Linked DNA regions of Homo sapiens: region 2 is linked to region 1. The links come from fine-mapping of genetic effects on plasma protein levels. A gene starts in region 1. The other region holds a variant in brackets. All regions are shown on one strand. Distances are from middle to middle.

Region 1 (2,887 bases):
TCCCTCAGGAAAAAAAAAAAAAAAGCCGCATCGGAGGAGCCTGGCCGCAGGACCCCTCCTCCCCGGGCGCCCCCACACCTTGGTCTCTCCCCCCGCCCTCCCTCACACCCCCCCGCCCCCCAGCTCTCGGGCGCCCGCCTCCCTCCTTCGCGGACGGTCTCCCGACACGCCGGCTGAGAGCCCTTTTCGACTGTGAGCTGCGGCAGCTGAGCAGAGGCGGCGGCGCGGGACCTGCAGTCGCCAGGGATTCCCTCCAGGTGACGATGCTCTGGTTCTCCGGCGTCGGGGCTCTGGCTGAGCGTTACTGCCGCCGCTCGCCTGGGATTACGTGCTGCGTCTTGCTGCTACTCAATTGCTCGGGGGTCCCCATGTCTCTGGCTTCCTCCTTCTTGACAGGTAGGGGAGGGGGCGGGAGGGACCGGCCCTCCGGGACGCCGGTTTGGTACCTGGGAAAGGTGGCGCTGGCTTGCCCCGGGGATGGGAGGGTGGGGAGCGCGCACCTTGGCGCTTGCCCTGCGCTGGTCGATGGGGATGAAGCGAAGCCCCGGGAGGGCTGGGAAGGCTGGTGAAGAGGTTGCGGGCTGAGAGGCTGTTGCCTTCAATGTAGTAATAATAGACATTCTTCTATTTGAATTTGAGAAATTATTTTATTTATTTTTAATGCTTTCCTCAACTTTTATTTTAATCTTTCCCTCTGTAGAACTCAGGAAAAAAATTTGTGCAGTTTTCCGCACATCTTCCTTTCTCATCTTTGGGGTTGCAATACATCCACTGTGCTAGGAGTGCTTTTTAAAGCACTGGCTCTCAAGACCTTGAATTTAAAGAAACTATCATTTAAAAAGGGCACTAATAGCCGGATATAATAATTATATGTTTTCAGGCAGGTGAAGACCTCAGCTGCTATTCTGAAGGACATACTTTACTGACACCTGGTGCAGAAAAGAAAATATGGAGTCAATTTCTAAGAGAAGGGAAAAGGGGATTGCGTTTCAAAAAGTGATTTAAACCTAAGACAATGCGAGACAGATTCATAGAAAGGCCTGTTTATTGACTCAGTTCTGAGTTTTGGTCAATTTAAAATCTGCCCCAATTTGAGGGTTTTTTTAAATTTTATTTTTTATTTTTTTCTTTGCGTATGGGGCTGTGTGCTTAGTTGAAATATCTTCATAAAGGAGGAGTGTTATTAAAAATCCAGTGAAATACTTGGAATTGTGCTTAGACCATCTGAGAACAGATAATTTATCCCTATATCATAGTCTTTTCTTTTTTGAACCTGTTTAAATAAAATTATTGAAAATGGAGTTGGGGGCAGAGGTTTTGCTTTGGTGAATTTAATAATTTAAACCACATTAAGAATTCTGAAGTTTGGGTAGAGGTTTCAAAAAGGATTAGTGTAAAAATTTTAAATGTTGAAATCATGCTGCTAAGCTAACTTTAAATGAAACATTTTTCCCCCCTGAATTTCAGGTTCTGTTGCAAAATGTGAAAATGAAGGTGAAGTCCTCCAGATTCCATTTATCACAGACAACCCTTGCATAATGTGTGTCTGCTTGGTAAGTGTGGAGATCAGGTAATATGAACTCAACTGCTCTCTCTGATAAGGTGAATCCATTAAATGTGATAATATAACCAGATCTTACAAATTGTCTTTATCATTACAAAATTGCACATAACTGTACATAGTTTGTGAGTTGAATCCAGTTAATTTCTGAGTTTTATGGACTTTGGCAATTTCCATTTCATCCAGCTGGAAATTCTTATCTTTGACATCATCCTTATAGACGTAAATTTCAGATAGGCTTTGTATGACGTCTCGGTGAAATGACAGTTTGTAATGTCTGTTTCCAGTAATGATTACTACAACCAAATTCTTGGGACAACAAAACTTTCTGCGTTGGTTCTGTCATTTAAGCTCAGTGGGAAAATGATGAGATAAGATTTAAGTATGAAGGTCAGGAATAAGGTATGCGACAAAGGGAAAGAGAGGTGACAGCCACAAAAAACAAACATAAGGACAAGATGTAATTCTGGATTTCTTTCTCGGGTTTCTTTGCCTGTTATACCCTAAACCCTCAAATACTGTCTTTATTTCTGATTTGGAAGCATGAGTCGGAAAGGACAATTCCATCCTTAATAGAGAATGACACTTGGCTGTCAGCTGCTTAGTTAACACTATCAGTGGTTAGAAGACTCAAAAAATAATTTGTTTCCATTTATTTTAGTTTAGTAGTTAATGATAAGTCTAATAAGTAACCACTTGGGGGAGATTAAGTAATGTGAATAAGAATTTCTGAGATGAAATATAGACCTACAAGGTAAACATTTTTGCTTAGGAGTGTTTTACATGCCAATCACTTTTGGCAAAATTTGGTTAGAAACTACACATTATAAAACCTTGTTGGAAATACATTAAGGCAGTCAAATGCAAAGCCCCAGAATGATAGAGGACTACTTGTTGCTAGATCAGCATGCTGTGTGGCGCTGGAGAAGGAATTCATTTCGGTTTAGGCAAAAGCCAAGCTATCTGAGTTTATACTACATAAATTTTTTCATGACAAGAGTTGAGGTCAATGTTTTGAAGTGATAAATGGGTGAAGGTAAATGGCTGTATCAAACAATTATCAGGTTCGGAAGACTAAGGAAATCAACAGAAACAAGTAAAAACGCACTGCGTTTGCTGACACAATAAATATTGCTGCCTAATAAAACAGAGCTGAGAGAGGGTGTATTATGATTGCATATTTATGGGTTGCTGTGTTCATTGATGATCTTTTAGTAAATAATTTGTTGAAAAGAAGCTTTCAGTTTAAATTTTGACTCAGTTGTAGATTTACAAATGCAGTGTGTGTGTATGTGTGTTTAATCTTCCTTTTTTATTTTTCTTATC
Region 2 (2,926 bases), 250 kb after region 1:
AAGACGTGTGACAACTGGAATGAAATTGGTCCATGCAACAAGCCGTGCGTTGCTGGGTGCCACTGTCCAGCAAACTTGGTCCTTCACAAGGGAAGGTGCATCAAGCCAGTCCTTTGTCCCCAGCGGTGACCTTTGTTTCGATCCTTAAGACTCTGAAATCTGGTGACTTTGACACTGAAGCGGAAGAGCCAATGAAGGACTGCAGTATTTGTGTGCCCGATTCTGTAAACACACACACACAGAGTATATATGTGTATATATATATAGATATATTCAAAAACATTGCATCATTTATATGAACTATAGGGGGATTATTATATGTATATTTTTTGCTATAAGACATGTATTGTTTCTAGGATCCTAACCTGTAAGCCATTGAACATGTTGTATAAATACACCAGGTGTTTTTAATTTAATAAGGTGGCATGCAGATACATTGGATAGTGTTAACATCACATACATTTGTCATTTTTAAGGAAGTTTTCTAAGAGCCCTCAATTGCCTGCCTGTATTAATTTTAGTTTTGAGTCAGGATTTGTAATGGAGTGGGAAATGTGTTTCTCTGGAGAAGGGCACATTTATCTAGGGGCATTTCAGGTTTCCAAAGAAAGGAATGTATGCCTGGGAAAGACAGCAGGAGATTGGTGACCGGCCCTAATGGTGCATGAAAAGCGAGTGATAGGCTGTTAGAATGTATTAGGTCATGGGCTAACATTATTTCCAAAATTGATTGGCTGGTTGCCAAGAAATATATATTTGTCACTAGGGCATAACCGAAGAATCAAGTGATTTCTTGCCATCCTTGCGTAGTCCTCAAGTCTTCTAATCATCTATGTGTGTATGATGGATGTGACCATTTATATGTCATGTGTTGAAATTAAAGGGTGTCTGGATGCCATGTTAATTTTATTGAGCATGAGAAAGTATTTGAAGAAACTGTTGCACAACATATGATGAAATTTTGATTTCTCTGAATCTCAGAGTAATTTAAGATGGGCAAATCCAATGAGTTGATGTAACCCATCTACATTTTGTGGCTATTTCATGTATAAAATGAAAGGCTTTAGTTATTTCTAGAGGAGTCCCATCCAACACTATTTGGCGACTGTTAATATGTTATAATTATTAGACAGTGGAAAAGCCTTTATTGACTAATTGATTTAACCTCAGTCCAAAGAACAGTCTCTATACTTGCCCTCATTTACTGATAGGCTGCTACTAGTTACCATTTGATTGTCTTGACTTTCGTCTTCAGTTGAATTGGTGAAAACATCAACAAAAACAAAACCCACTGTGTCTTAAAATAAAATGTTCTGCATTGTAGTCAATAAAGGGCTTAAGATGT[A/G]AAACAATGCATTTTCTCTCTCAAGATGTCCTGTGTTATACTTTACAATTAGTTGTATCAACTTCAGATTCATTAAATTTTAACAGCTGTATTTAGTTATAATTTTTGTATCTTACAACAGTATATATAAAGACTATTATTAATAGACAAAAGCAAACCCACGTTTTTGACAAGCCAGCATATTGCCAATGCTCGTCAAAGACATTTATGTTTCTTTTACATTCATGACAGCTAAAGTATTAACTTGGAATTTTTTTTTTTTTTTTTGACTGGAAAATCCCTAGTTGTTTGAATTAACTGAATAAAGTGCAGGGCGTAATAGTGACTGGCTGGGGGCACTGGGCCTTTGTGTTTTTTTTCATTCCTGTGTTTGGATACTAATCACCCTCGTATCTGCAGCCTGAGGTAGTCAGGTCATTGTTTCAATGCTGCCCTTGGAAAGAAGACTTTGACTTAGGTGCTTTGGGATCTAAGTGTGGTTTGTGACTATCCCCATTATTTAAGCATTTGGGGGTCTCACTTTTGCTTATCTGTAACACAAAGAGGCCATGTAGTATAGTGAGCAGGGTTGAGAATCGGGAAAACTAGACCCCTGCCACTAACAGGCTAGGAGACTTTGGGCAGTAATGGGAGGCACTGAGGGTTTGCAAATACTTTCCTACTTGTAATCTCATTGATTCCCTGCTCTGCCCTGACAGGAGGGGTAGGGAAAATCAGTTGACGTTGCCTGGTGGTTCCTACCTTCTGTAAAACGAACAGATTCCTTAAGATTAGCTTTAAATCCCTTTTCAGTTCACTGTTGGTTCTCATCTTTGAAAGAGGGCAGCATAAGGGAAATGATGGAGAAGGGAGAATTGTGGATGGTTATTTATAGCTCATGATTCATCCAAGGACTGAGTTATTCTCCCCATGAGGCTAACCGGCCTCTTTCCCAACACTTAATCATGGCAGCCAGGATGGGTGAATGATGAAAGCTCTTCTGCATGAGCCGGTTTCATCATCTTGGGTGGGTTGATTACAAGTTTGTGTGGCATTCCTTTAGCTGGGGATTAGCTTAATCTCTGTACATTTTTCTCATTTCTAATTGAAGAAGAAAGGGAGGGCAGAGAGGACAGAAAATTACTTGGGTTTACTAATTCAAAGAGCCATCTCTGATGGGAGAGGGTGAGGAAATCAGCTGAATGGTTGGCCTGCATATTCTTTTTTAGGCCACAGGCTACAGCTGAGCAATGGCTTAGTCTAATGATTGGGCACAATGAGGATTTACCAAGTGCTTCAATGAGAGCAGTCCTGTTTCATTCACATGGGATGTTTTCAATTGGTTCTTCAACTAAGCTCTTGCAGAGTGAGATGACTTGAAATAAAAATGTTCTATGAATATTGAATTTGATGAGAAACAAGCACCCTCAATGAAGAACAAGCATAATTATGATTCTAATTGCCCATTGTTGGTACTCAGTAAAACTAAGTTCTTTCTTCTCTCCCTCTGTAAATAGGAATATTTGAGGGTCCTGACCTAAAATTTTTTAGCTGGGAAGAAAAGATATCTCTTTGGCATCGACAAGAGCAATTTTTGTTAAA

Which allele goes with the higher level. Positions count from the first base shown, and alleles are read on the strand shown. Strength reflects both the effect of a copy and how common the allele is.
For the plasma level of the protein whose gene starts at base 189 in region 1, G is the low allele of the variant in region 2 and A is the other (moderate association).

Evidence for each region. PIP is the chance, under the fine-mapping model, that this variant and not a neighbour inherited with it causes the effect. The UK Biobank Pharma Proteomics Project read protein levels with antibody pairs (Olink). The fine-mapping took linkage between variants from a reference panel, not from the people measured, so its PIPs are less certain.
Region 2: its variant is fine-mapped to the plasma level of the BMPER protein (UK Biobank, PIP above 0.99).

Annotation. Positions count from the first base shown.
Region 1 is chr7:33,905,351-33,908,237 of GRCh38, forward strand. BMPER (BMP binding endothelial regulator) reads left to right here and starts at 189. Exons shown (of 15, transcript NM_001365308.1): 1 at 189-396; 2 at 1,468-1,553. The coding sequence starts at 264.
Region 2 is chr7:34,153,145-34,156,070 of GRCh38, forward strand. BMPER (BMP binding endothelial regulator) reads left to right here. Exons shown (of 15, transcript NM_001365308.1): 15 at 1-2,926. The coding sequence ends at 129. Among named protein-coding and RNA genes, the nearest start is that of BMPER, 250 kb to the left of the region's middle. The variant A/G (reference allele first, on the strand shown) is at 1,346.